7 linked regions of the Homo sapiens genome follow. The protein of the gene in region 6 purifies or fractionates together with the protein of the main gene of each other region. This does not show direct contact. Each region holds a gene or a part of one and is shown on either strand. Other genes may lie near its edges. The genes, in order: TNIK, DNAJC7, GEMIN5, FARSB, TNPO1, RRM1 and CSE1L.

What was found.
Region 1: the proteins of RRM1 (region 6) and TNIK purify together in Homo sapiens (co-immunoprecipitation; one large-scale study listed by IntAct). This does not show direct contact.
Region 2: the proteins of RRM1 (region 6) and DNAJC7 fractionate together in Homo sapiens (co-fractionation; one large-scale study listed by BioGRID). This does not show direct contact.
Region 3: the proteins of RRM1 (region 6) and GEMIN5 fractionate together in Homo sapiens (co-fractionation; one large-scale study listed by BioGRID). This does not show direct contact.
Region 4: the proteins of RRM1 (region 6) and FARSB fractionate together in Homo sapiens (co-fractionation; one large-scale study listed by BioGRID). This does not show direct contact.
Region 5: the proteins of RRM1 (region 6) and TNPO1 fractionate together in Homo sapiens (co-fractionation; one large-scale study listed by BioGRID). This does not show direct contact.
Region 7: the proteins of RRM1 (region 6) and CSE1L fractionate together in Homo sapiens (co-fractionation; one large-scale study listed by BioGRID). This does not show direct contact.

What each region holds. Positions count from the first base shown.
Region 1 is NC_000003.12:171,068,455-171,072,732, reverse strand, and holds part of TNIK (TRAF2 and NCK-interacting protein kinase), read left to right. Parts: intron 1-1,409; coding exon 1,410-1,510; intron 1,511-3,735; coding exon 3,736-3,885; intron 3,886-4,278. UniProt on the Homo sapiens protein: Serine/threonine kinase that acts as an essential activator of the Wnt signaling pathway. Recruited to promoters of Wnt target genes and required to activate their expression. May act by phosphorylating TCF4/TCF7L2.
Region 2 is NC_000017.11:42,007,105-42,011,382, reverse strand, and holds part of DNAJC7 (dnaJ homolog subfamily C member 7), read left to right. Parts: intron 1-4,278. UniProt on the Homo sapiens protein: Acts as a co-chaperone regulating the molecular chaperones HSP70 and HSP90 in folding of steroid receptors, such as the glucocorticoid receptor and the progesterone receptor.
Region 3 is NC_000005.10:154,899,694-154,903,971, reverse strand, and holds part of GEMIN5 (gem-associated protein 5), read left to right. Parts: intron 1-796; coding exon 797-892; intron 893-1,295; coding exon 1,296-1,433; intron 1,434-2,485; coding exon 2,486-2,633; intron 2,634-4,278. UniProt on the Homo sapiens protein: The SMN complex catalyzes the assembly of small nuclear ribonucleoproteins (snRNPs), the building blocks of the spliceosome, and thereby plays an important role in the splicing of cellular pre-mRNAs.
Region 4 is NC_000002.12:222,645,943-222,650,220, reverse strand, and holds part of FARSB (phenylalanine--tRNA ligase beta subunit), read left to right. Parts: intron 1-1,425; coding exon 1,426-1,481; intron 1,482-2,095; exon of another isoform or gene 2,096-2,380; intron 2,381-3,224; exon of another isoform or gene 3,225-3,420; intron 3,421-3,874; exon of another isoform or gene 3,875-4,278.
Region 5 is NC_000005.10:72,885,942-72,890,219, forward strand, and holds part of TNPO1 (transportin-1), read left to right. Parts: intron 1-1,128; coding exon 1,129-1,281; intron 1,282-2,136; coding exon 2,137-2,362; intron 2,363-3,844; coding exon 3,845-4,016; intron 4,017-4,278. UniProt on the Homo sapiens protein: Functions in nuclear protein import as nuclear transport receptor. Serves as receptor for nuclear localization signals (NLS) in cargo substrates.
Region 6 is NC_000011.10:4,132,584-4,136,678, forward strand, and holds part of RRM1 (ribonucleoside-diphosphate reductase large subunit), read left to right. Parts: intron 1-979; coding exon 980-1,075; intron 1,076-2,498; coding exon 2,499-2,687; intron 2,688-4,095. UniProt on the Homo sapiens protein: Provides the precursors necessary for DNA synthesis. Catalyzes the biosynthesis of deoxyribonucleotides from the corresponding ribonucleotides.
Region 7 is NC_000020.11:49,069,730-49,074,007, forward strand, and holds part of CSE1L (exportin-2), read left to right. Parts: intron 1-475; coding exon 476-568; intron 569-2,556; coding exon 2,557-2,724; intron 2,725-2,838; coding exon 2,839-2,968; intron 2,969-4,278. UniProt on the Homo sapiens protein: Export receptor for importin-alpha. Mediates importin-alpha re-export from the nucleus to the cytoplasm after import substrates (cargos) have been released into the nucleoplasm.

The sequences.
Region 1 (4,278 bases), on a different chromosome or scaffold from region 6:
TGTGTCCTGAAACTTTACTGAAGTTATCAGCACTAAGAGTCTTTTGGAGGAATCTTTAGGGTTTTCTAGGCATAAGATCCTGTCATCAGCAGAGATAATTTCACTTCCTCTTTTCCAATTTGGATGCTTTTTATTTTTTTATCTTGCCTGACTGTTCTGGCTAGGACTTCCAATACTATAGGAGTGGTAAGAGTGGAAATTCTTGTCTTGTTCCAGTTCTTAGGGGGAATGCTCTTAGCTTTTTCCCATTCAGTATGATGTTGGCTCTGGGTTTGTCATATATGGCTCTTATTATTTTGAGGTATGTTCCTTCAATGCCAAGAGCTGTGGATCTTTTCCTAGGTTTCAGATGAAGAGATCAGCAAAAATAGTCTAATAAACACTTTATGTCATGAAAAGTTATAAAGCAAGTAACTGGAAACTTAATGTCATTTAAGTATATTAAAATTTTTCCTACCTAGTTTCTTTAGGACTCAGAATATTCTGTTTCTTGAGATATTTTACCAAGAAACTGACTGCCATGTGTACCAACTGTGGATTACGAATTCTCTAAGAATTAGAATCCACACTTAACAGCAAAAGATTCAGAAGGCACTTAAAGGATTGTTCAATTTCTCAAGGTCATCACCGTAAACATTGCTTATTATTCTATCAGAGACACACACGTAGGTAAGAGTAATGAAGAGAATGCCAGACAACAGTCTGTTCTTCCATTTTTCCATTCAATAAGCATTTATTGAGTACTACTTTGTGTAGGCAAAAGCATTGTGGGGACTCAATCATTTAACTAAGCTTCTGTCCATAGAATTTACAATGCTTAATATTCCATCTTTCTAAAGAGTAAAAGGATTTGTCAGTATTCGTAGCCCTTTAAGCCACTAACAGAACCCAAGACTCCTAACACCCCCCTTTCGTTAGAAGCATAAATAAGCAATTATTTCACTTGGTAATTGGAATTCAAATATAAATAATAAGCAAATGGCAGCCTTTATATCTGCCCATTTGCTAATTTTTCTACCATCTTGCCATATCTGCTCTCAGCTACTTAAATATGGGTGAACGTAAAAGCCAGGCAAGCTAACATGAAGGAAATTATGCACATTCTTATTACAATGAATATCAACATCAAGACCTAGTGTTAAAGACAGTCCTAAGCAGTTATATCTCTGGATGATGAAAAGTCTTCAATATAAAGCAAAAGCCATAAGTATTCTGCCAACCAAAGTTCGCTAAGGGAAGCTAAATCAGTATCTATGAAAAAATCCCACACCAGGAATATCACCTTCATGAAGCTGACACCCAACATCAATATTTAAATTTACATATTGTTGCTTATACATTCATTAATATTAATACAAAGAACTTGAGTAAATTGATGTACTTTTTCACTCATAATTTTTCTATTACAGTTAAATATGAAAGGATCAAATTTTTGGTGATTGCCTTAAAGAATGCTGTGGAAATATATGCTTGGGCTCCTAAACCGTATCATAAATTCATGGCATTTAAGGTAAGCAGGGATGTGATTATCTAAAATGTGCTTTTTAAAAATTTTCCGTTTCTACCCATTAATAAAATAGTCCATATAGACCAATACCAATTTTCATATAGATAATAAACCTGTTTTAAAAGTGTAGGTACTCTAGGGTTTATTGTTTCAAAAGTAAAGACTGAATATTTGTAAATGCTATAAAATTAGATTAAAATTTGGGTATGCCCTCCTCCTTGAGATCTATGAATCATCATCCTCAAGAGGCATTTAGAATGGTTAGTAGGCATAGCATTGATTATGATCTTATGCAATGACATTTGTTATAAAGCCACCTAAACCAGGGTATTCCCTGATATTTTGTTTGAAAAAGGCAGACAAATGGCAGCACTGAATCTCAGAGTTAAACTGAGTCTCTTTTAATCCTCATAAATCTTTCTGAATGAAGTCCCTAAAACTCAGGTGATGCTTATATGTCCCCAGTGCTAACTTACAGAAATGACCTAGTTTCTCTGCATTCTTCTATTTTGATTGCCTTTTCATTTTTTTACCTTGTCTAAGTCTGTACCCACCATGGTTGGATTGGTCACTCATGAGATTTGCCAGGAGTGGGATGGGGATATGCTAGTCCTGTTGACCCCAGCTCATGAAGCTGACACCCGAATACCAGGAGGACCAGTACTTACAGGCACCCAGATGTGTTCAGAGCCGCATAACCTATCCATAGCCCAAGTGAACTTATCTTCTGTTTTCTCTCACTCTCTCTCTCTGATCTCTCTCTGTCTCTCTCTCTCTCAGCTTATGTCTGTCTACTTCTTTATGTCTCATTGGCTCTCACTTTTTCTCCCCACCTTTATGACTGTTATCTCCATTTGGCTCCTTATTATTTTCTGCCACATTCTCATGAAGGGCAAAACTGCCCTTGGAACACCATGTAGGCCCACTTCAGAGCTGAATCACTTCTATCTTGTTCCCTTAGGGCAGATGGCTTCTGATGTGCTCAAGAAAATAGATTCATTAATGGAAATGGGCTCCCCTCCATGACCTCACTTTTATGGAAAAAAATTGGAATGCATTAGGTTACTAATAACAAGGGATAACTCCTAAAAGCCAAAGTGGTACTCCTGTTCTGCCAAAATCTATCTCCACAAAAGCTTTTCAATCAACATCCCATTCCCATTCTTGCTCTGAAGTTATTGCCATTATTTTATGACCCAGAGACACATGAGAGAGTGCAAAATGTTCTTTCTGACAGACCCTATCCAGCCCAGAAAGAGGGAAGAGCAAAGGCAAAGACTTGAACAGGAAAGAGTGGAACTGGCAAGAGGCCAAGCCTTCCCATAGGACAAGGACAGGACGCTAGAGCTTCCCATGCTGTCAGAATGGTGTTAGCAAAAGATGAGAAGAGAAGGGTCTGAGAGGTAGCAGTGGCATTATAGTTAAGGCAATTGTAGTTTCACAAATGCTCTCCCAGATCTCAAGGCCCAAAGGTAGAGCGTGGTTAAAAAATAGCAAAGGAAAATGGCAGAGGAACACTTGACAGTTAGTTGGGGCTTGGGCTCTGGATTCAAACACAGAGAACTTTGACAAACTTGGCAAGATCTCTCTTTTTGCTTTCTAGTTAAACCCAAATAGTCAATGCAAGCCATCAATCTTGTGATGTTCCACTCCCACCTCTTTCTCTACCACCCAAACCCAAGTCTCAGATTCCAACATTAAGAGAAAGTGCCAATCTTATGCCTACTCATTCACTGAAGAAAAATCCAAACCAGAGCATGCCCATTAATACTAAACAGGCTGAGAAAACAGCCGGCCTTGGCTGTCCCTCCCAGGCTGTCTCTGAAAGGGTAGTTGCTGTGGATGGGCCTGGTTGCCACATGGGAAAGAGGGGGGCCAGAGAGGTGACTGGGCCTTCTTCAGAGGACAAAGGCCAGAAATAAACAGGAAAAAACAGCAATACCCAGGCACCAGGTTTTTAATATACATTACCACTATCAAAATTTACACCTGTGCACCAACTTAAACTTCACTGCCCCGAAGGACAAAGGGTAGAGAAAGGGGCACAAATGGATGCTAGACCCTTCCTCCTAGGGCCAGAATATCAACAGACCTAAAACTGAAAGAGAAATTTTCTAGTTTTTCACTTTAATAAAGTTAGAAGTTAACTTCCTCTAGACAGTGGCTAAAGGAAAAAAATTAAGATGCCTCTTTGAGTGATGCGGATACTAATGGGGTGATTTTTAAAGTCTTTTGCAGATCTCCAGCACAAGCCTCTGCTAGTTGATCTCACGGTAGAAGAAGGTCAAAGATTAAAGGTTATTTTTGGTTCACACACTGGTTTCCATGTAATTGATGTTGATTCAGGAAACTCTTATGATATCTACATACCATCTCATGTAAGTACTCAGAAGTAGACTTTCAAGGGCTCTCTGTACAACAGCCTGCATGTAGAAAGAGATTTGTTTTGCATAGTTTTAGTAGAAGTCATGCACACTTTACTAACCAGCAAATGGACTTTCGTTCTTCATTAAGTATACTGCTTTTAATAACTAAAATATATAAATTTAACTAATTTTTATGACTTCCTAAAATTGGGGAATACATAATAGAAATCATTTGGCATTTACATGTTGTCTCTTTGGACTTTAGATTAAAATGAATATGACATATTTCTTTCAAGGGCATGAATTATATTCGGTAGACAAGTTTCCACATTCAGTTTTTGAAGGGAAATTCGTTCATTTTATGTTAGAGAAAGCCAATGGTCAGGTACTAATTTATTGGAGAAA
Region 2 (4,278 bases), on a different chromosome or scaffold from region 6:
TGAGTGGCAGTTGCTTAGAGTCCAGTCCACTCCCAACAAACAGAACTCTGATTGGCCGAAAGCCCAGCCTTATTGTACATTCCAGCCAATCAGGGATTAGTTTAGTCATTGAAGTTTGTATTTTAATGGTTTTGAAAAGCTGAGTACTGGGCACTTGCTTTTTTGTTCTTCGGGACTTTAGAAGTTTGGAGAACAATAGTCAGCAGTTGCCTAGTTGCTTTGTGGCCTGATGCAGAGTCCCTCTGAGAGCCCATTTCTCCCTTACTGCACTAGTCTTTGGTCCCCTTTCTCCAGCACTGAGTGATGTGGAAGTTACTCAGAGGTCTTTCCAGGTATTCTTTTAAACTTTTGAAGTAAGAACAAAATTCAAAGTGCAGTTATCCTAACAGGCTATTCATTTTATTGGAGTGACACTGTTTTTCCTTCTCCCATTCGGATCAAAATGGCAATTCCTATGTTTTACCCTCACCATGGGTAAGAATATGAGTGGTTGAGGCTTTTGAGAATGGTAATAGGAGGAATATATGACTCTCAGGTCTTATTCTGAGACGTGAAATTCTATTGGCATGTGACTTACAATTTGTGTGGGGAGGCCAGATTGTCAGATAAGCAGTGTTAACCATCTCTCTTGATTCTAATATTACTTTTGGAGAGAGTGTGAGGGGCAAGCAGGACCCTCTCTTGTTTTTGGAGTTTCTGTCCTGAGAGTTCTTCCTTGGACAGTTTGCCCTGAGACAGTTAACCACCTGTTGAACTAAGGAACCAAGACAACTTTGAGAAGTGAAATACCGTTGACAATCCAGGCTCCTCCCCACTCTAGTTCCCATCTCCACCCCACCCCACTCCACCCAAAAAAACTCAGGAAGCAGCCTTTATATATATATATTTTTGAGACAGAGTTTCATTCTTGTTGCCCAGGCTGGAGTGCAATGGCGCAATCTTGGCTCACTGCAGCCTCCGCCTCCCGGGTTCAAGCAATTCTCCTGAGTCAGCTTCCTGAGTAGCTGGAATTACAGGCATGCGCCACCACGCCCGGCTAATTTTGTATTTTTTTTTTTTTTTGTAGAGACAGGGTTTCTCCATGTTGGTCAGTCTGGTCTCGAACTCCCGACCTCAGGTGATCCACCCGCCTTGGCCTCCCAAAGTGCTGGGATTATAGGCGTGAGCCACTGCACCCGGCCTAGGAAGTAGCCTCTTTCTTTCTCTCTTTCTGTCTGTCTCTTTCTTTCTTTCTTTCTTTGTGATGGAGTCTTGCTGTGTCTCCAGGCTGGAGTGTGCAATGGCACGATCTCGGCTCACTGCAATCTCCGCTTCCTGGGTTCAAGCTATCCTCCTGCCTCAGCCTCCTGAGTAGCTGGGACTACAGTTGCATGCCACCATGCCCAGCTAATTTTTTATATTTTTAGTAGAGACGGGTTTCACCATGTTGGCCAGGATGGTCTTGATCTCATCACCTCAGGATCTGCCCGCCTCGGCCTCCCAAGTGCTGGGATTACAGGCGTGAGCCACTGCGCCAGGGCAAAGCAGCCTTTTCCTTAATTGTAGTTCCTCAGTTTTAAATTTTTGATGGGTGCTGGTGTCCCTATAGTGGGAGATGTCACAGAATAGGGAACCGAGGGATGGAAAATGGTGGGTTTGGGGATATGTTATGAAAACAAGCCTCTGGCTAATGCTGAAAAGCCAGTGACTTGTATCCTCAGAATGGTTTCAGAGAAGCATGTTTCCCAGAAGTAGCTTCATTGTTGGGTCTCCTCTCCCCAGGGATAAGTGAAGGTTAGGTAGATGTAATAGATTGTGACACCTCTCATTTAAGGACCTAAAATAAATTTCCAACTCACCGTTGAGACAAGTATTTCCAAGTGAATATGTTTCTGCCTGCAGTGATGGGATTTCTGTAGGGATTGAATTGGTTGCTTGCTTTTTCTTCCTTACTGAATAAGGCATAGCCAGCTGCATAGCCAGGCACAGCTTGCTGGCTGGTGTCCGTCCCTGCCTGAACAGTAGGGAGTGCTGCTGCTTTGTGTAGACAGTCTGTGACTCCTCTGGTGCATTTTGGGTCCCTTCTGACTCTGCCCGTGTTGAGGCTTCTCCTTGAATGTCCACCCAGAGGACAATTTGAACTGGTATGTTAAGGAATTTTCTTCATCTTCTGCCTTCTCTTTATTAGCGGAGATGTGTGGAGGGTTGTTCCATTTGTGCTTTAAAGTGAAAACTATCTATTCTGTAGGAAATTGGGTAAAGAAAGCTGAGTAGCAGATAGCTTTGCTAAAAGGTAGCAGTTGGATAGCGCTCACCTTCTATTTTTTTCTGGATGAAGCACCGAGCATAAATACCTTGCCATATTTATAGAATTATTCCAAGTCATATATCTATGGCCCGGCGTGATGGCTCACGCCTTTAATCCCAACACTTTGGAAGGCAGAGATTGGCGGATCACTTGAGGTCAGAAGTTTGAAGACCAGCCTGGCCAACATGGCAAGACCTCATCTCTACTAAAATAAACAAAGATTAGCCAGGCATGGTAGTGGGGCCCTGTAATCTCAGCTACTCAGGAGGCTGAGGCAGGAGAATCACTTGAACCTGGGAGGCAGAGGTTGCTGTGAACTGAGATCACACCACTGCACTCCAGCCTGGGCAACAAGAGTGAGAGTCTGTCTCAAAAAATATATGTCTGACCCGGCGCGGTGGCTCACGCCTGTAATCCCAGCACTTTGGGAGGCCGAGGCGGGCGGATCATGAGGTCAGGAGATTGAGACCATCCTGGCTAACACGGTGAAACCCCGTCTCTACTAAAAATACAAAAAAATTAGCTGGGCGTGGTGGCAGGCGCCTGTAGTCACAGCTACTTGGGAGGCTGAGGCAGGAGAATGGCGTGAACCTAGGAGGCGGAGCTTGCAATGAGCCGAGATGGCGCCACTGCACTCCAACCTGGGTGACAGAGCGAGACTCCGTCTCAAAAAAAAAAATCTATATCTATATATATATATCTATACCTGTGACTTCCACTTATCTATGTGAAACTTATATTGACATTTCACTTGTAGAATAGTAGATTTTTTTTTTTTTCTTTTTTGAGACGGAGTCTCACTCTTGCCCAGGCTGGAGTGCAATGGCACAGTCTCGGCTCACTGCAACCTCCGCCTCCTGGGTTCAAATAATTCTCCCGCCTCAGCCTCCCGAATAGGTGGGATTACAGGCACCCTCCATCATGCCCGGCTAATTTTTGTATTTTTGTAGAGATGGGGTTTCACCATGTTGCCTAGGCTGGTCTTGAACTTCTGACCTCAGGTGATCCACCCTCCTTGGCCTCCCAAAGTGCTGGGATTATAGACATGAGCCACCTTGCCCAGCCTAGATTTTTTTTTAAAAAAGAAACTTCTTACCGGGCACATGCCTGTAATCCCAGCTACTTGGGAGGCTGAGACAGGAGAATCAGTTGAACCTGGGAGGCGGAGGTTGCGGTGAGCTGAGATCACGCCATTGCACTCCAGCCTGGGCAACAAGAGCGAAATTCTGTCTCAAAAAAAAAAAAAAAAAAAAAAAAGGCAGTTTTTTCTGGCCAATTGTGGTGGCTCATCATGTGTGTAATCTTAGCACTTTGGGAGGCTGAGGAGGTGGATTGCCTGAGCTCAAGAGTTTGAGACCAGCCTGGGCAACATAGTGAAACCCCATCTCTACTAAAATACAAAAATTTAGCTGGGCATGGTGGTGCGTGCCTGTAGTCCCAGCTACCAGGGAGGCTGAGGCACAAGAATCGCTTGAACCTGGGAGGTGAAGATTGCAGTGAGCCGAGATCTCACCACTGCACTCTGGCCTGGGCAATAGAATGAGACTGTCTCCAAAAAAAAAGAAATTTTTTTCTTAAAGAAGAATCTAAATGATATGCTTTTGGTAAGATGGAATAGAAGTTAGGCTCCTGGGCTCCTTTTACTTTATTTTGTCATGAAGGTCAGGGAGAGTGCAACATGAAACAGGCCCTGTGACATGCCATTGGGGACAAGAGGTCTCGGACTGTGGGAAGGAGGAAAGAATTTCTACTCTGACTGGCCAAGATCCCGTGAATTCTGAAGGGTGGAGGGCATTTCTAGATCAACAGGCAACTAGTAAGTTTGACTGAATAAAATAAATGGAGCACAACAATCATAGAGTAAGGCGACATTTGGGGAGTAGTAAATATAAGAGGAATGCATAAGGGATATTGACTCATTGGCAGTATAAAGTATTATTATTAATAGCCTAAAGGAAAAGAAAAGTATCTTTTTCTTTTTCTTTTTTTTT
Region 3 (4,278 bases), on a different chromosome or scaffold from region 6:
AGTTTACATGTGGAAAAGGGATGCACATAATAAATAAAATTGATGCTTAAGGGGCTGAAGCAGAAGGATCACTTGAGCTCACTTTAAGGCCAGCCTGGGCAACATAGTGAGACCCTCTCTCTATTTAAAAAAAAAAATTTTTTTTTAATTTTTTTTTCAAAGTAAATCTTCCTCCCAGTCCTCTGTTTCTCCTCCCCAGGAATGGAGGACCATCCTCCCTCCCGGTTACTGTCTCCCACTACCCTAACAAGGGTAGTCACTATCCTGGGCTTCCATTTGTTTCTTTCTTTTGAATTTTTGAACTGTTTTGTCTGTATTGCATAATCAAACTATTATCAGTTTCTTGTGTCTTGATGGAGATGTTTTATGCTTTTATTATATACATAGCCTTTTTGGAGCTTTGTGATGACTTCCTATAACTTACATAGTTAACCTAGTTTCACATTATTTTCCTTACTGGAAAATTACTCAGTTGACTTTTTTTTTGAAGCAAAGGATGAATATTGAATCCCCTTGTGGTAAGTCCCAGTGAATATTAAGGACTTTCTTTTGCTTATTAATATTGTTTTGCTTGTTTTTTACTGCACTTAAATATGTTCTGATTTGGGGTTCACTTTTAACATTTTAAGTGTTTTTGTGTTTTGCTCCCTTTGTAACTGCAGGAGTCTCTGTTAGAGCTCTGATTCTCTCAGTGTCTGAAGTGGGTGTTCCAAACATATATTCGGAAGTTATTGGAGAGAAAACTGTAATCAATGTAATGACTTCATCTGATTTTTTTGCCTTTTTAAATTAACAGAGCTGAATGAAGATGTGTCTGCTGATGTTGAGGAAAGATTTCATCTGGGGCTTTTCACAGACAGGGCTACCCTGTATAGAATGATTGATATTGAAGGTGAGACAAATCCAGTCAACATAATCTCATCCATCTTTATACTTTCCCAACATTTTGTGTGCACCTCTTTGATGGCTGTCATCCTGTGATATTATAATGGTTAGTTTTACGTGTCAGCTAACTAGGTTTTGAGCTCCCTGATTTACATATTGATACAACCCTTGCATCATCATAGGATCCTAAACATACAGCATTCACTCTGAGTACATGTGAAGGTGTGGGAGTGTACAGTGACCAAGTGGGCTTCAGATCTTACTGTAATCACTCTGGTAGGTGACACCCATCAGAGAATGACTGCATATTTTAGGAGCTCACTTTCTCTTCTATCTTGCCTTTCTTTTCCTACAAGTCAGTAACAGATGTTTCTGAAACACCTTCCAAACATTATCTCTCTTTCAAACAGGAAAAGGTCACTTAGAAAATGGCCACCCTGAGTTATTTCACCAGCTTATGCTTTGGAAAGGAGATCTCAAAGGTGTTCTCCAGACTGCAGCAGAAAGAGGGGAGCTGACAGACAACCTTGTGGCTATGGCACCAGCAGGTATGGTTTTTGTTTGTTTGTTCTTTTCAACAAAAGCTCTATCATCTCTAGGATACGTCCACTAAAGATGGCTCTTAGCACAGTCTTAAGCTTGAAATCACTTACAAATAGATACAAAGCAATAGACAGCAATAGACAAACTAATAAATCCAACCCAACCCCTTTGAAAAAAAGCAGGTCACTGACACTTTAATTGGCAAAAGCATAATTGGTGAGAACTTCTTGAAGGACAATTTGGCCATGTCTAGTAAATTTTAAAAGATATAATGGCACAAGTCTGTAGTCCCCAGCTGCTCAGGAGGCTGAGGCAGGAGGATTGCTTAAGGCTAGGCGTTCAGACCTATAGCGCTCTGTTAATTGTGCCTGTGAATAGCCAGTGTATTCTAGTCTGGGCAACATCATGAGACCTTGTCTCTTTAAAAAAAAAAAAGGCTGGGTGTGGTGATTCCTGATTCATGCCTGTAATACCAGCATTTCGGGAGGCCGAGGTGGGCAGGTCACTTGATCCCAGGAGTTTGAGACCAGCCTAGGCAACATGGCAAAAGCCCATCTCTACAAAAAAATTAAAAAATTATCTGGGCATGGTGACATGTACCTGTAGTCCCCGCTACTCGGGAGGCTGTGGTGGGAGGATCACCTGAGCCCGGGGAGGTTAAGGCTGCAGTGAGCCATTATTGTGCTACTGCGCTCCAGCCTGAGCCACAGAGTGAGACCCTGTCTCAAAAAACAATAAAAGGAAAGGGAAAAAAAAAAAGCACGTAGTCATGTTACCTTTGGCTCATCAGTTATGATTATAGGAATTTAACTGTGCTCACACATTCCTTTCTGTATCTTTTCAACTTTGTACTGTTTTGTTTGTGTTACATAATCAAACAATTGATGCTTCAGAATGTGTAGATGAAGCAGATGATCCATAATGGCAGCTGAATTGGTATCTAAATGTTCTGCTGAATGCATTGACGAAAACAAGGCTTTTTCAACCCAAATGTACTGGGTATTGTTTTTACTTTTTCTTCAACTGTTTTTTTAACCACCATCTTTTATTTTTTCAGCTGGCTACCATGTGTGGCTATGGGCTGTGGAAGCTTTTGCCAAACAGCTGTGTTTTCAGGATCAGTATGTCAAGGCTGCTTCTCACCTACTTTCCATCCACAAAGTGTATGAAGCGGTGGAGCTGCTCAAGTCAAACCATTTTTACAGGTCTGTGTGGTCCTAGAGTTGGGATAATACTTGGACATAATGTGAAAATAACCTAAACTTCTCTATTGTTAAAGTAACATAAATAGAAGAAACAGTCCTCCTGCTTCAGCCCCCTGAGTAACTGGGACTACTCAGGAGGTGCATGCCACCACATCCAACTAATTTTTTAGTTTTTTGTAGAGACGGAGTCTTGCTGTGTTGTCCAAGCTGATTGCCAACTCCTGGGCTCAAGCGATCCTCGTGCCTCAGCCTCCCAAAGTGCTGGGATTACAGGCATGAGCCACCATGCTTGGCCAAGATTTTCTTTTTGTTCTACCCTGCTTTGGTTTTGTTATCTTCCTTTAGAGAGTGTTAAACTTTGTTTTGGTAAGTAGTAAAGTTGTGTATCAGCTTGATCTTTTCATGGCTTGTTTTTAAACTTCGTTAGGGCAAGTTTATCATATTCTAGAATTACCTCCTACATTTTGATATCTTTCTTGAATGCCTTATGCATTCAACAAATCAAAACTCAGATGTCTCCAAGTCCTGAGTAAGCTCTGGGAATTGTTCAGCTTACAGTTACCTAGTCATTCTTTGTTTAGACTTAAGGAGTTTCCTTTACATACGTGGCTTTTAATTTAGCCAAAGACTCAATGGGATCTCCAGGCAGAGTTGTGGATGTCTTTCTCTGGACAGCTTCCTCCTTCCTAGTATCCTGCCCCTCAGATTTCCATTGTTTCCTCTTCTCAACTCAGAGACTGCTGAGGTTTTGCTCAGGTTTTCCTTAGGAAAATGGCTTTGGGCAGAAAGCCAGTGCCAAGATAGGGCTCCCATCATTTGTTTCTGTTCTCTTAGGGCTGACCATCCTATGCTGCCTGTTACCTGGTATCTAAAAACAGTTGTTTCAGCCATTTTGTCCAGTTTTTTAGTTTTATGGCAGAAAGGTAAGTCTGGTCCCAGTTACTCCATCATGGCTGGAAGTAGAAGTCCCAAAATACTTTCAAAATATTGCTCTCTCTAGATCACTTTAATCTAATAAAACACTTTTTTCCCAGCTACAACTTTATGTTGGCTACAACTCAGCAGTTGTATGTCATTTGAAAAATATTTGTTTACTGAGTTGTTCAGATCTTCCAAATGTTAACATATCTTATTATAAAATACCCAAAAATACCACATTCCTTACTATCACCATCAGTCTCATCAGAAAATTCTAACTTATGGGAAACTCAGGCACACAAGTGGTAGGTACAAGTTTTCTAAAATTCTAATTTTTGCTAGAAAACTCGCATTTTATCATTAGTAACAAATACTGTTGGTTGTTTTTAATGAAGTGATAGGCCTACTTTGTTCATTTTTGAGAAAAACATCTGCCAAATACCCAACACTGAATAACTGTTATTTATGTTAGTCATTTTTTTTTTTTTTAGAAGAAAGAAGGTTCTATGAAAAAGCAGCCAGTTTAGCTTGTAATTTGTTCATACAGGTGTTACCTAGAGACAACCATTCTACTTTGGAATGCAGCAGAGAACACAAAATGTTCTTCCCATTTGTCACACAGAATATTAAAGTGTTTTGGACTTGACGGATTTAGTAAAATTTGTAATTTTTACTGCTTCATTAAGGGCATTCTTCCTTTTTTTCCACTGTAAGAGCCACCGCCTTC
Region 4 (4,278 bases), on a different chromosome or scaffold from region 6:
GAACTTTATGTTTCATCCATGTTGAACTACTTAAGAGTTTCCAAATTTGCCATGCTGTTTCACGCCCCACAATCTCTGCCTAACGAACTCATCCTTTCTGTGAAGGTTTAGCTGACCATAAGAGAAACTGATTACTTCTTTTGTGCCAGCCCTGTACCTTGTACTTAACACAGTCATATTTATTTACACATCTGGCTTCTTTACTAGATGAGGAAGTAGTTAAGGCAGGAATTGTGTTTTATTTATCTTTGTAACCCTGGTACCTAGTACAGTGCCTGGTATAAGGTGGGTACTCAGTACATAGATGTTAAATTGAAATTTAGTGTCTGAATCAGGAATCTTAAGACCAGTTTTCGCTAGAATATACTGCTAATGATGTTTTGTGTTCAATTTTTGGTAATGTGAGAACCCTGAAAAGCTAAACAGTAGGATATAATATTAAAATAAGGAAGAGAACTTATTTTATTAATTGCTAATAAACTATTAATTATTGTAGACTCACTGTGTCTCAGGGTACTATGCCAGGTCCATTTTATGCATTAGCATTTAAATCTTTCCAATAGTACCATGCCATAATGGCTGTGAAATACCATTTTATAGATGAGGCAGCTGTAATGTTGACACAAGATACCAAGAAAGTTTACATAAGGTGCCAAACTCTCAGATCTAATAAGTGGGATAGAATTCAAACTCTGATTGACTTGGCTTCAAAGCCAAAAGTGTCAGGCCACCTCAGACCATTTTACCTGATAGGACTTATGTGACATTCTGTTGTGTGAGATCTGTGATTTGGAGCCTACTTTATATCTGATCTCTACTTAACAGGTGAACAGGTGTTTTTCTTCTGTGTACATGCAAACTTCCCAGTGCAGGTAACCTAAACTACAGTTGATATTAGTGTAGATTAATCAAGCCTTTAATAGTTTTTTCTTTTTTTTATCTTAAATTTTTTTGGCCCAGCTTTTTTTTTTTTTTTTTTTTTTTTTAATTTTTTGAGACGGAGTCTCGCTCTTGTCAGCCAGGCTGGAGTGCAATGTCATGATCTCGGCTCACTGCAACCTCTGCCTCCCAGGTTCAAGCAATTCTCCTGCCTCAGCCTCCCAAGTAGCTGGGATTACAGGCATGCGCCACCATGCCTGGCTAATTTTGTATTTTTAGTAGAGACAGGGTTTCACCGTGTTGGCCAGGCTGGTTTCAAACTCCTGACCTCAGATGATCCACACACATTGGCCTCCCAAAGTGCTGGGATTACAGGCATGAGCCACCATGCCTGGCCTGTTTGTTTTTAAATGATAATATGTGATGCCTGATATTTAGTAGTATGATTGGTGTAAGGCAATTAGTAATAAGAAAATGCAGTTTGTATGTAGTTTTCACTTATACTGAACAGAGTGAAATTAACCATCTCCTTTTTTATTTTCCTAGCTGACGAAGAATTTGATGAACTATGTTTTGAATTTGGTCTGGAGCTTGATGAAATTGTATGTATTGGATATTTGTCTATTTTTCAAAGATTGTGTGCATAAGCTTATTTTTCAGGGTTATACTGTATTTCATCTTTGTTACCTTATAGTTAGACTAAGGTGATAATGTTTGTGGGCCATGATTTCTGTGTTCAGAGGGCTAAGCTCCATGTCTGTCTGTTGCCTTGACTAAAATCTCAAAAGGAGTTCATGCCTTATTCCATCTACAATCACCTTGTTACCAGGCTCATGCTGTGGAAATGGATAGAATGTGTTAGATAACCCCAGTATGAAAGTAAGCTCCCTCCTTTGGCAAATTAATCACAGAAAGGGACCAAGAAGCAGTAGAAATGTTGCTTCAACCAGAGTTACCCTGCCTCCTTCACTTCCAGCGCCTCCTCCTTCAGCTCCTCTGCCCCCATAACCTTCCTCCGTGCCTCTTCAACCAGTACTAATGCATTACTATATTCATTGGTCTTGTAAAATGAACTAATATTTTTTAAGGACTTGCTTATAAAAATGAGGAAGCATTTTCTTTGACTTTTGATTGTATAATGATTACAATATTTAAAAAAATCAAGTCGGCTATACATTTTAATATTGTTAATAATGATTATCTATTAAAGACATACTTTAATTTGGTGGGGTTGGGGGTCTGAGTCCTTCCTCGCGGGGGCTTGATGGGTCCTGAGCATCCTCTGGCCGGGGTTTCTGATCCATCTGCTCCAGCATAAGTTCACAAAGTACAGTCCGCAGGCCAGCAGCATCATCTGGGAACTTAGGAAAAAACCAGCCCTACTGAACCAGAAACTGGGGATGTGGCCCAAGCAACCTTTTACCAAGCCCTCCAGGTGATTATAATGCAAGGAGAGACGAGGTTTTACCATGTTGGCCAGGCTGGTTCTCGAACTGCTGACCTCAAGTGATCCACTGCTTTGGCCTCCCAAAGTGCTGAGATTACAGGTGTGAGCCACCATGCCTGGCCCAATGTGCTTTATATAGTTTCACTCTGTTGCCCAGGCTGGAGTGCGACAGCGCGATCTTGGCTCACCACAACCTCCTCCTCTTGGGTTCAGGCGATTCTCCTGCCTCAGCCTCCTGAGTAGCTGGGATTACAGGAAGGAGTCCTTATCTTGGACCTGAGGCTGCTTTCTTGAAGAAAACTTGACTTTATTTCATTTAGTGGGAAGAGCAGCAGCCCAGCTAATAAGTTCTAATATGCAATAGGCTGCAGGCTGTGAAGTCTGAAGCTAAGGAGCTGAGGGCTTAACAAGTTTCTAGAAGCTGCCATCAACATGCCAAGTCAGTAAAACTGAAAGCTGGTCAGATTTCAAGGTCTGGGGAGGAATCCACTGCATAGTGGGTCTTGAGCTCTAGAGAGCTAGGCCTTGCTAAAATAAAAGAATTACCTTACCTACCATCTTTGTTCCAGGCTCCGTAGAATTTGTGACAGCCCTGGCTGACCTCCGAGCAGAGGCTAGCTGTCCCATCTGTCTGGACTACTTGAAAGACCCAGTGACCATCAGCTGTGGGCATAACTTCTGTCTCTCCTGCATCATTATGTCCTGGAAGGATCTAGATGATAGTTTCCCCTGCCCCTTTTGCCACTTGTGCTGTCCAGAAAGGAAATTTATAAGCAATCCCCAGCTGGGTAGTTTGACTGAAATTGCTAAGCAACTCCAGCTAAGAAGCAAGAGGAAGAGGCAGGAAGAGAAGCATGTGTGTAAGAAGCATAATCAGGTTTTGACTTTCTTCTCTCAGAAAGACCTAGAGCTTTTATGTCCAAGGTGCAGTTTGTCCACTGATCACCAGCATCGCTGTGTTTGGCCCATAAAGAAGGCTGCCTCCTATCAGGAAAAAACTGGAGCAATACAATGCACCGTGGAAGGAGAGAGTGGAACTAATTGAAAAAGTCATAACTATACAAACCAGAAAATCACTGGAACTGAAGAAAAAGGTAAAACATACGGCAGAAGAAGTCAAGTCTGAATTTGAGCAACTTAGGTTATTTCTGCAAAATGAGCAAGAGACTGTTTTTGGGCAATTACAAGATGACGAGATGGATATTTTAGCACAACTAAATGAAAGCCTAACAAAATTTTCAGATTATACCTCCTCATTAAAATATCTACTAAAGAAGATAGAGAGCATATATGTGAAGTCAGAACTGGAATTACTGGCTGATGTTAAGGATATCTATCACAGACATAAGAATTTAAAATTCCCTAAACCTTTTTTATTCAAATTAAAAGAATATGGTTACCATCTGTCTCCACAATATTGTGGCCAAAACAAAATTATCAAGCGATTTCAAGTAGATGTAATTCTAGATCCTGAAGCAGCACATCGTAAACTTATAGTCTCAGAAGATAGAAAAACTGTGCGATATGGAAATACAACACAAAACTTACCTCATAACCCAAGAAGATTTTATCTGCTCCCAGCTGTTCTGGGTTCTAAGGGATAAAATTGTGGCAGGCAGTACCGGGAAGTAGAAGTTAAAGACATGCCTGAATGGATTCTTGGTGTCTGTAGTGACTCTCCTCCCACAAGGAGGAAGAGTCAACCAATTTTAGTACAGGATGGATTATGGAGAATTTGGTAATCTAGTCGGAATAATTATATTGTATTGGGCCATAAGGAAATTATTCTGCTGCCAAAAGTAACACCTAGTAAGATTGGCATTTTTTTAGACTGTGAAATGAATGAGGTTTCCTTTTATAATTTGAATGATAGATCTCTTCTCTGTACTTTTAATGATGATTTTACAGGAGAACTTTGGCCTTATTTTTATACTGGAACTGACTCAAAACCT
Region 5 (4,278 bases), on a different chromosome or scaffold from region 6:
ACACTTAAGAGCTCAATTCACGCTTATAATAAGCCAACTCTCTTGATAACTAACCCACTCCTACAGTAACGACATTAACCCATTTATGAGGGCAGAACCCTTAAGACCTAATCATCTCTTGATAGGCCCCACCTCCCATCTTCGTTGCTTTAGGGATTAGGTTTCTAATACATGAACTTCAGGAACACGTTCCTACCCATAACAGTTAAATGATATTTTTGTTGTTCTTTTTGATTTTGTTGCTCTTGTCTAAATTATTATTATAATAAAATCTGGGTTGATTTATAGTCCCATAGTTAATTCTTTGTAAAGAGTATTTTCTAGCATGCGTTATGTTTCATGTGCCAGTGACTTTTCTTCCAGTTTTTGTGTCTAAAGTCCAGCTAAGTAATTGTCTGTTTAATTCTAGATGATATACTGCTGGAAATGTTAAGTAGAGTTAATAATGTATGTTTTTTGCGTGATTGTAACAGTGATTGTAATCATGATTGTAATATGAGTGTATCATATTGAATGGTTATGTTAGAAGCACTGAATTGAGTGGCACAGTATTTGTTTTACTGTATAGACAGAATTCTAGTATGACAGTTATGTACAGAATACAATGTGTTCACAATTAATTTGCCAAGTAAGTTCTTGTCATAAAAAATATTCATCTTAATAGAAAATGTTTTTGGCTGGGCATGGTGGCTCACACCTGTAATCCCAGCACTTTGGGAGGCTGAGGAGGGTGGATCACGAGGTCAGGAGTTTGAGACCATCCTGGCCAACATGGTGAAACCCCGTCTCTCCTAAAAATCAGCTGTGCGTACTGGCACACACCTGTAATCCCAGCTACTCAGGGGGCTAAAGCGGGAGAATCACTTGAACCTGGGAGGCAGAGGTTGCAGTGAGCCAAGATCGCACCACTGCACTCCAGCCTGAGCGACAGAACAAGACTCCATCTCAAAAAAAAAAAAAAAAAAAAAAACCACAAAATGTTTTCACGTGACAAACTACCTCCTATTCAATTGAATTCTTATTTTAAAACTCCGTATTAGAGATACGAATAAAATGTTACATATACAATAAATAATATATAAGTAATAAGAGGTTAATGTAATATTTTTGAATTAAATATTTCCTTAGGAAAATGTTCTGCTGCTGCCCTGGATGTTCTTGCAAATGTGTATCGTGATGAACTGCTGCCACATATTTTGCCCCTTTTGAAAGAATTACTTTTTCATCATGAATGGGTTGTTAAAGAATCAGGCATTTTGGTTTTAGGAGCAATTGCTGAAGGTAAGCCTAAGTCCAGTTTGAATTATGTAAGTTGGCTTCTTACTACTATTAGGTACTAATAAGGCTAGGCTACTTTAAGGAATTTCTATTTTGAACCAGATAACTAGTATTAAACAGCCATAGGCCGTCTTCTAACCCCAGCTAGATATTTTGCAAAATGTTTTTGTTATAATAAAGGTAACAGAGGCCAGGCATGGTGGCTCACGCCTATAATCTCAGCACTTTGGGAGGCTTAGGCGGGTGGATTACCTGAGATGGTTTCAAGACCAGCCTGGTTAACATGGCGAAACCACGTCTGCTAAAAATACAAAAATTAGCTGGGCGTGGTGGCATGTGCCTGTAGTCCCAGCTACTTGGAAGGCTGAGGCAGGAGAATTGCTTGGACCTGGGAAGTGGTAGTTGCAGTGAGCTGAATTCGTGCGATTGCACTCCAGCCTGGGTGACAGAGCAAGACTCCATCTCAATAAAAAATAAAAACAAAAAAATTAAGGGAACAGAATGAAAGGCTCTGATGTCTGAAGCATCCCCATTGCTTTAAAAAAAAATCCTTGATTCTTTAGGTAAGTATAGGAAACACAATAAGGCAAGACTCTCTTCATTCTCTATGAAGGGTTATTATTGATTTTGTCCTGGCAGTAAACATCTATTAGAAGAAATTGAAACACTGTAAGATGCTTGGGAGCAGGTAGCTCTAACTTCAGGGTTTTAAAAATAATTTTGGTATAGGTTATTGTAGTATGTGTATAGCAGTAGAAATATTCTGAATTTTTTCATAGATACGTGTTTTATTTTCATAATCAACCAAAATAATGTTAACTAAATTTTAGCATTTTGAAAGATTTATTTTTTTTCTAGGTTGCATGCAGGGCATGATTCCATACTTGCCTGAGCTTATTCCTCACCTTATTCAGTGCCTCTCTGATAAAAAGGCTCTTGTGCGTTCCATAACATGCTGGACTCTTAGCCGCTATGCACACTGGGTGGTCAGCCAGCCGCCAGACACGTACCTGAAGCCATTAATGACAGAATTGCTAAAGCGCATCCTGGACAGCAACAAGAGAGTACAAGAAGCTGCCTGCAGGTGGGACAGATTCATAACACAGTGTTCTTTGTGGCAGTGAAAAACTTAATTTTCAACCTTCTGATGGAGTGTTGGTGTTAAACCTATAATGAAGTGTTTCGTAATTGAAAATTTTCCAGTTATATCAGAAAGCTTAGTTTTCTTTTTTCTTCTTGGTGAAGTGTTTTGCAGGATCTGTAGCTTTTGGGTTTGCATATTAGCGTATTTTATACATTTTGTTTGGCCAGGAGAATTTTGTCATGTGGGTTTTACCTGATGATTTTGTAGATCTAAATGTGACAACATCGATCTTAGCTGTTTCTTCTTTGGCTCATTTTTCCCACTCAGTGGTTATTATAACAGAACTATCTTACACCCTAATTCCCTCAGACATCTGAACTAGTGATGGCAGGACTCCTACTCTTGAAGGAATAACAACGTTTGAGCAGATTGACATCCTTAGACTACAGGTCAACCACCATAACTCAGAAAGTCCCACAGGGACCTGTGGTCTGTCACTTACCAGTTAAAGGTCTTTGAGTGCTTAGTAGTTCTGCTCTAGTAGCCATTCTATTGGTTGGTTTGGTGGCTGTCTCTTTATATCAAGCCAGCAGTTGCTTTTATTACTACAAATATTCCAGTTTCCTGCAATATACCTTTATATTTTAAAAGGGCCTTCTGCTTATGTTTATAGTTCTTAATTTTTCGAGTAGGTTTGCTTTTACCATTGACCTTGATAGTAGGAAAAAATAACTGTTGAACAAAAAAAAGGAAAATTTTATTTTATTTTTTTTAGATGGAGTCTTGCTCTGTCGCCCAGGCTGGAGTGCAGTGGTGTGATCTTGGCTTACTGTAACCTCCGCCTCTCGGGTTCAAGCAATTCTCCTGCCTCTGCCTCCTGAGTAGCTGGGACTACAGGTGTGCGACACCATGCCCAGCTAATTTTTGTATTTTTAGTAGAGATGGGGTTTTGTCATGTTGGCCAGGCTGGTCTTGAACTCCTGACCTCAAGTGATCCACCCATCTTGGCCTCCCAAAGTGCTGGGATTGCAGGCGTGAGCCACCGCGCCTGGCAGGGATAGTAAATTTGAGTTTGACCTTAATCCATCTGAAGCAGTCATATCTGGAAGATATTAAGGGAGGGAGGATATAGATTATGTTTGAGATCCTATAATTTATTCATTCAGTACCTCGGTTTTTTTTTTTAGCTATTAATTGTTAAGCATATACTAAATGCTGAGTTTACATAAAGTCCCTGCCATCTTGAGACTTACAGGTTAGTAGGAAATACAAAGCAGCAACATAATTATCATTTATGGCAAGTGCTATGGAAGAAATCGGTAAATAATTCACAGTGCTGATGACCAGGGCTTTCATTAACAGATGGCTTAGACCATTTTAGGAAATTCCTGATTGGGTAAAACAGAACATAAACATTTTAGCAATTAAGAGTTAGATATATCTTACAGTCAATAAGTATTCTTTTTTTTTTTTTTTAAACAGTGCCTTTGCTACCCTAGAAGAGGAGGCTTGTACAGAACTTGTTCCTTACCTTGCTTATATACTTGATACCCTGGTCTTTGCATTTAGTAAATACCAGCATAAGAACCTGCTCATTCTTTACGATGCCATAGGAACATTAGCAGATTCAGTAGGACATCATTTAAACAAACCAGTAAGTATCTGTTAAGAACTATTAGGGAAAATAATGTGTAGCATAGTTACAATTAATAGATTAGCATATATTTGGAAATTAAGATGTTTTGGGAGATGTGAATAGTTAGCGTTAGCTACTTTAAGAGTATAGATCTTACAAAGGCAGCAAGTATATCCCCTTTCATGTGGTATTCTTAAAGTAAATACATACTTGGTGTGGAAACTACAGCAGCATTTCACATGAATGCTCTGATACTTTTTAGAATGACTAAAGCAAAGGG
Region 6 (4,095 bases):
CAGCACAATAGGCATTTAATAAATAATCTGTTGAAAGAATGAGTGAATGAGGGTCGAGTATGAAAGTAAGTTGTTGATAGTTAAACATGATGTTTAACCATTATGTAATCATAGTGATATATTCTATAACTTCTCCCAGATGCTTAAGTTAGGATACTCAAAATGTATAAAGAAGTATCATTTAAGGCAGTGGTTCTCAGACTTGGTTACCAATTAGAATTTATGGTGGGTGAGACCAGTGGTTTTTTCTTTGTTTTTAAGGTTCCCAGGTAATTCTTATGTGTAGCTAGGGTTGAGAACCTCAATTTAAAAGACTATTTGTGAATTTCCAGATATCTTGAAGTAAAGTTCTGTAAAGTTCGAGAAGGATACGTTTCCAATTTTTTTAACCTAAGTATTTATAGATTTACCCATCTTAGGCGCTATTCTTTTCACTTTTGCAAACGCCATATGTTTCTTTTTTAATGAAAATATTTTTTCAGCTTTATTAAGGTATAATTGACAATAAAAATTGTGTATAAAACCAAGGTATACAGTGTAATGATTAGATATGTGTATATATTATATAACGATTACCACACCACAATGTTTTTGTTGTCGATACTGTTTTTGAGAAAATGTCTCACTTTGTCACCCAGGCTGGAGTGCAGTGGCATGATCTTGGCTCACTGCAGCCTCTGCCTCCTGGGTTCAAGCAATTCTCATGCCTCAGCCTCCTGAGTAGCTGGGATTACAGGCATGCTGCGCCACCATGCCTGGCTAATTATATTGTTTCTTGAATAACAGATGTCAAGATCTTAAAGGAATATAGCTTTCGTGTGGTGGCATTGATGTCTCGTCTTTATAAAAGATAGAATTTACCAAGCAATCTAGCATTAAATAACTCTTAAGTGATTTTAGTTTAAGCTTCAAAGCTGTAGTCTTTTCTAAGCAGTCACTGTTATTTATTTCTTCATACATTTTCTGCTTTTCCATTCAGATTGTAAATCCTCACTTATTGAAAGATCTTACCGAGCGGGGCCTATGGCATGAAGAGATGAAAAACCAGATTATTGCATGCAATGGCTCTATTCAGGTATAGAATGAAAATGAAGTGTGCTCTGCAGGGGCTGAGTTGGACATTGTGGTACCTCCTCACTCATGCTAGACAATGGAGAGAATGACTTCATTGTGTTCATCTAGGTTTTGCTTGTGTAGCTCTGTTCACCTCTGCATTGTTGTGCTAGGATTGTACACATCTTTACATAACCCTTACCATCTTGTTTTTATGCAATAATATAAAAAAGTAGTTCTCAATTTTTCTGCATCTTAGAATCAACTGGGGAGCTTTTAAAATCCTGAAGCTTAGGTTGCATTCCTTACCAATTAAATGTCTAGGAACAGGAACCAGACATCAATTTTTTTTTTTTTTTTTTTTTTTTGAGACGAAGTCTCTGTCGCCCAGGCTGGAGTGCAGTGGTGGAATCATGGCTCACTGCAACCTCTGCCTCCTAGGTTCAAGCGATTCTCCTGCCTCAGCCTCCCAAGTAGCTGGGATTACAGGTGCCTGCCACCACGCCCGGCTGTTTTTTGTATTTTTAGTAGAGACAGGGTTTCACCATATTGGCCAGGCTCCTGACCTCAGGTGATCCGCCTGCCTTGGCCTCCCAGGGTGCTAGGATTACATGCATGAGCCACCGTGCCTGGCCTCAGACATCAATAATTTTTAAAGATTCTTTTGGTGATTCCAAAGTATATCAAAATTTGGGGGATCATAGATAGAAAGACTGAAATTAAGAGAGTCAAGCTTAATTAAAAATCATGGTTGACGACTGATAGTCCAAAAGACAGAGTCACAAATCGTGTAAATATTTGCAACTAAGAGTCAAGAGGCATTTATTTGCAGATAGAGGTGTCTGGCTAAATGTTGGTCTGCTTAGCAACACAGATGAAGAGTCCTATAACAGTTCCATATTTAATGACAGAAACTGTAGCATTAGCCAGTCTGTGTGTTTTAATGAAAGTTAACCCTAGGCCTAAGAAAACCTGATTTTGGATTCCAAAGGGAGTTTGAAATCCTAGCTTATTTAAAGGGTTTTATCTCATTGCTTCCCTTGGTCCCTGTGAATTACAGCCCTTATTTTTTGTGTTTTCTGCAAAACTCAAGGGTCATTTATTGCTGCTTAGCTCTGACTTTTCCTTTCTTTAAGTGCCTCTAGAAGAATGAATGTTTGGGTCATAAATCAATTAAAAAATTAAAAAATTGGTTTATGACCAACAAAAAAGGGATGCTGAAATTACTATCACCAGATTGATATTTGGTTGGTTAGATGGGGGTTTTGTTCAACTTTCTAAATAGTCTTGGTAAACTTGATAAGGATCATATCATATGATACTGAATGGTAAGGTCAGATCTGGCAGGAAGTAAAATGAAGATCAAAGCTTGTGTCACTATTCTATTAATCATACACTGCTTTCTTTAACTGGAGTAAAGTAAACATTGGGTTTTCCTTCTTTAGAGCATACCAGAAATTCCTGATGACCTGAAGCAACTTTATAAAACTGTGTGGGAAATCTCTCAGAAAACTGTTCTCAAGATGGCAGCTGAGAGAGGTGCTTTCATTGATCAAAGCCAATCTTTGAACATCCACATTGCTGAGCCTAACTATGGCAAACTCACTAGTATGCACTTCTACGGCTGGAAGCAGGTTGGTAGAGAATATCAAGGAGTACTTAATTGCCAGCTTGAGATATTTTGGCATTGGAATGATTTTATGTTTTAGCCACCTATTAAATATTATCACCTAGAAGTTCTTTAAGTTCAAATCCAGAACGTTAAAACCAACCCATGGTTTTTGTACCAGAACAGGGTCTTGCCTTGGATTTTCTTGTTTCTGTTAGGTTTATTTCCTTCTTAGGTTTGAAACCTTGTAGTTACCTGTGATGCTTTCCTTCCTTTACTGTCCGTACAATTACCAAGTTGTGTTGATTGTTCCTTTGTATTATTTCTTAAATATCTTCCTTCCTTTTCTGCTGCTGTTATTCTAAACTGACCTTATTGCTTCTAGGATCTCTGCTCCCAGCCATTTTGTGTGCATTACCACCATTCCTCAGATAAAACTTTGCACACGTCAACCCGCTATTCAAAAACATCCATTGTTTTCTCACTTTATAAAGTGAAAGCCAGCTTACTTAGCTAGTCGTTGCCAGCTGTAAAGTCTGGTGATTTTGGATTATGTTCTTATTCCCTGATAATGTATTGGGTATTTAAGTAGAATTATAAATTTGTTTTTTAATTTAACATTTATTGAACATCTAGTATGTGCCAGGACTGAGGATACTGAATAGAAGATGATGATCTTTATCTTTGAAGTCTTATAGTCTGTTGTTACACAGAGACACAGTCTAGCTCTCTAAACAGTTATAACCTAAGGCAGACATATTGTCTTGGGCAAACCTGGAAGTCATATGCATAAAAACAAAGACAAAAGAATAAAAATGTTTGACCTTTCCAAAGAGATAAGCCTGTTTTAGGAGTGAAAAGAACAGGATATTTCTGTCTGACTCACAAAGCATTTTTGAGAGTACTCCTAGAGGAGATAGAATTCCAAGTTTAAAAAAAGTTTGATCTGGTTCATGGGAATGTATTTTATTTTATGTATGTATGTATGTATTTTGAGACAGAGACTCACTCTGTTGCCCCGGCTGGAGTACAGCGGCATGATCTTGGCTCACTGCAACCTCTGTCCTGGGTTCAAGTGATTCTCATGTCTTAGCCTCCTGAGTAGCTAGGATCACAGGTGTGTGCCAACACACCTGGCTAATTTTTGTATTTTTATTAGAGATGGGGTTTTGCCATGTTGGCCAGGCTGGTCTCAAACTCCTGGCCTCAAGCAATTCACCTGCCTCGGCCTCCCAAAGTGCTCGAATTACAGGTGTGAGCCACTGTGCCTGGCCAGGAATGTATTTTATTTTATTTTAATATTATTGTTTTATTTTATTTTATACTTTTTTAGACGGAGTCTCGCTCTGTTGCCCAGGCTGGAGTGCAATGATACAGTCTTGGCTCACTGCAACCTCAGCCTCCTGAGTAGCTGAAATTTATAGGCATGTACT
Region 7 (4,278 bases), on a different chromosome or scaffold from region 6:
CTGGCAGGGAGACCAAGGAAAGAGGCATAATCTACCCTCAGGGGACTTGTACCCTCATTAAGAAGGCAGTACTATGCCACAAGAAATCAGTAACTAAAAGACAATTAGTTTATCTGCCTTGGTGGTCATCTTACAATAAACGTAGTTCAGAAAAGAAAGGGGATGTATTAGTATGCACTGAGCTTGAGCTTTGTAAGGAAAGTCTTCATATAGTCTTAGCTGAACCTTGAAGGAAGATTTAGATTAGGATGAGAACTAGAGGTGGCATCATTTATAGCATACAAACAGAGGCAGAAGTCAGAATGCTTTATGCAGCTGCCAGATGTAGCTGGAGCAGAGAATTCTTGTCAGAATAGGTAATGCTCAGGCTGTGAAGCCTGTGTATAAAATGTTTTGTCCACGTGGTAAGGGAACTTATAAAAGTGGTGTTCTTAATATTTTAATCAAAAGTTTCAAGTCAGTGTTTATTCTGTAGGATCTCCCTGAATTTTTTGAAGATAATATGGAAACTTGGATGAATAATTTTCATACTCTCTTAACATTGGATAATAAGCTTTTACAAACTGATGTAAGTATTTAAAATGTTGCCTGAGTGGTCTTTTTCTTTCATTAAGAGTTATTTGGCTACAGTCTGGAAACCTATTTACTCTTGCATTGTTAAAAGATAAAATTTCAATACTGTAATAATATTTGATTCTATTTGATGTTACATGTTTGGTGTGTGTAGTATACAGAATTACTCTTATCATGGGCTTGGCTTAAGCCATAGTGTACATATAAGGCTGTTTCATTACATTATTGAAAGTAGGTCTTTAAAGTAGTGACATTATGGATATTTCATGAAATAAAATTATTTTTCATTGAAGATACTAAGAAAACTTAAAACTCTATAATGGTAGCCCCTTTTTAAAAATCATCTGGCTAGGCATGGTGGTTCACACCTGTAATCCCAGCACTTTGGGCGGCCAAGGTGGGGAGGATCCCTTGAGCCCAGGAGTTCAAGACCAGCCTTGGCAATGTAAGGAGACCCCCATCACTACAAAAAATAAAAATAAAATTAGCCAGATGTGTTGGCTCATGCTAATGGTCACAGCTACTCAGAAGGCTTAGTTGTGAGGATCCCTTGACCTTGAGCCCAGGAGGGCAAGGCTGCAATGAGCTGTGACCATGCCACTGCACTCCAGCCTGGGAGACAGAGGGAGACCTCGTCTCAGAAAAAGAAAAAATTATCCACAGCTCGAGAAAGAGAGAAAATGGTAAAAGATTGTAATTTGTAAATATTTCTGATATGGGTTTTATATTGTGTACTTTTAAACATATAACACTTATTCTGTGCTACTCATTTGTTAATATATTTATGACCTTCTTTCCGAAGAGACAAAAGACAAAATATTAAAAATATTTCAATACCAAATAAACTAAAAATTAGAATTGGTGATTCAAATCAGGTTTTAAGAGTGGGGTACAGAAAGAAATTGTTACTATCGTTGTACAACAGATTTTGTCTCAGAGTTTGACTATATTAATAGGAACTTTAAAAGATGTAGCTCTCATAAAATAATTATTTCAGTCCAATGGGAGGGAAAAACACTCCTTCAGAAAACAAAACTTTTCTTCACACAAAAGTCACAAGGAAATTTTTTGGATAGAATTCTTACAAGGACCTTTTTGCCCAGTTAACCATGTGCTACCTTGTGCTACTATTTATGCCTTAAGTAATCAGTGTGAGGGAGTTTTGGTTTTGGCTTTGGTTTTTGTTCTTACTCTGATGTCTTCCCTTGTCTCACTCTGTCACCAAGGCTGGAGTGCAGTGGCATGATCATGACTTACTGCAGCTTCGACCTCCCTGGGCTCAAGTGATCCTCCCACCTCAGCCTCCCAAGTAGCAGGGACTATGGGTATGCACCACCATGCCCAGCTGATTTTTTTTATTTTGGGGGCTTGCTGTGTTGCCCAGGCTAGACTCAAAACTCCTGGGCTTGGCCCGTCGCAGTGGCCCACGCCTATAATCCCAGCACTTTGGGAGGCCGAGGCCATCCTGGCTAACACGGTGAAACCCCGTCTCTACTAAAAAAAAAAAATACAAAAATTAGCCGGGCGTGATGGCGGGTGCCTGTAGTCCCAGCTACTTGGGAGGCTGAGGCAGGAGAATGACGTGAACCCAGGAGGCGGAGCTTGCAGTGAGCTGAGATCGCGCCACTGCACTCCAGCCTGGGCAACAGAGGGAGACTGCGTCTCAAAAAAAAAAAAAAAAAACCACTCCTGGCCTCAGGCCATCCTCCAGCCTCAGCCTCCCAGAGGGTTGGGATTACCGGCGTGAGCCACTACACTCAGCCAGAATATACTGTTTGAATCTAATACGGAAATATTTTGTAATTCAGCAACTTATTTGAAAGACTTGGTGAAAAGATTGGTGGTGGCATAGCTGTAGTTTACAATAACTGATTTGATTTGGATTTAATTGATAAAGAGTCTAGTTCAGGAATTTCAGTTACTCCTCTTACTTATGTTAGCATTAGAGTTGTATGTTGGAGTTTTTGTTTTCTTTTATGTGAGGATGAAGAGGAAGCCGGCTTATTGGAGCTCTTAAAATCCCAGATTTGTGATAATGCCGCACTCTATGCACAAAAGTACGATGAAGAATTCCAGCGATACCTGCCTCGTTTTGTTACAGCCATCTGGAATTTACTAGTTACAACGGGTCAAGAGGTTAAATATGATTTGGTAAGATGATGGTGGAGACAAATAATTAAAAGACATTCTCTCCCTATCTCCTCCAAGAAATAAGCTGTTGAGTTTTGCTTTTAAAAATATTCTTGTTTTTGTGTTTTGTTCCAGTTGGTAAGTAATGCAATTCAATTTCTGGCTTCAGTTTGTGAGAGACCTCATTATAAGAATCTATTTGAGGACCAGAACACGCTGACAAGTATCTGTGAAAAGGTTATTGTGCCTAACATGGAATTTAGAGGTAATTATGGCAAAAGTATATTAGTATAAATCTACTAAGTCTGTGTTTGTTTTTTGTAACATATTCAGTCTAATTCATTTATTACTGGATAAAACTTGTATGTCATTTATTTCTTATTTTCTAAACCAAGACAGAAAATGTAGTATCTGTAATGAGTTTTGTTGTGCCCTGTGAGGGTTTTCTCATGGAAATATTAAATAAGACTTCAAAAATTCCTTTACACTAAGAAGATAAACTATCTGGAATTTCTATTTAGAGAAAGAATTTGATTTTGTTTCATTTATTATTTCAATGAATTTTTAGCTGGCTTTATTTATTTATATATTTATTTGAGACAGGGGTCTCGCTCTGTCACCCAGGCTGGAGTGCAGTGATGCAATCTTGGCTCACTGCAACCTTAGCCTCCCAGGCTCAAGTGATCCTCCTACCTCAGTCTTCTGAGTAGCTGGGACCACAGGCACACATCACCATGCCTGGCTAATTTCTTGTATTTTTGGTAGAGACAGGGTTTCACCATGTTGTTCAGGGTAGTCTCAAACTCTTGAGCTCAAGCAGTCCACCCGCTTTAGCCTCCCAAAGTGCTGGGATTGCATTTCTGAGCCACCTCGCCCAGAAATAGCTGTTTTTAAACAATCGACTTGAGAATAGAAATGATAACTTTATAAATACAAGGTTGAAGCCCACTTAGTTTGTGCTTAAGGTTAAACTATAGTGCTAAGAGCCTATATTTATAAAATGTATGTCCTTGTTCTAACAGTTGTGAAGAACAAGTAATGAAGGTGGGAGGGATTGTGTTTTTTGTTTTGGGGACAGGGTCTCACTGTGTCACCCAGGCTGGAGTGCAGTAGCACAGTTATGGCTTACTGCAACCTCAACTTCCCAGGCTCAAGTCATTGTCCCACCCTGGCCTCCTGAGTAGCTGGGACTACAGACGTGCACCACCATGCTCAGCTAGTTTTTTATTTTTTATAAAGATGGGGGTCTTCCTATGTTGCACAGGCTGGTCTCAAACTCCTAGCTTCAAACAATCCTTCTGCCTCAGCCTCTCAAAGTGCTGGGATTACAGGCATGAGCCACCATGCCAGGCCAAGATTTTGTTTTATATCAAAATAGTTATTAGATCAGTGGTTTTCAAATTACATCTGGAACAAAATAAGGAAATTAAGGACAATATAGCGTGAGATTTTATTTCCTGTTGTGTTTTCATAAAAATATGTTTAAAGGATAAATCTTCTGGCTGGGTGTGGTGGCCCATACCTTTAATCCCAACACTTTGGGAGGCTGAGGTGGGAGGAACACTTGAGCCCAGG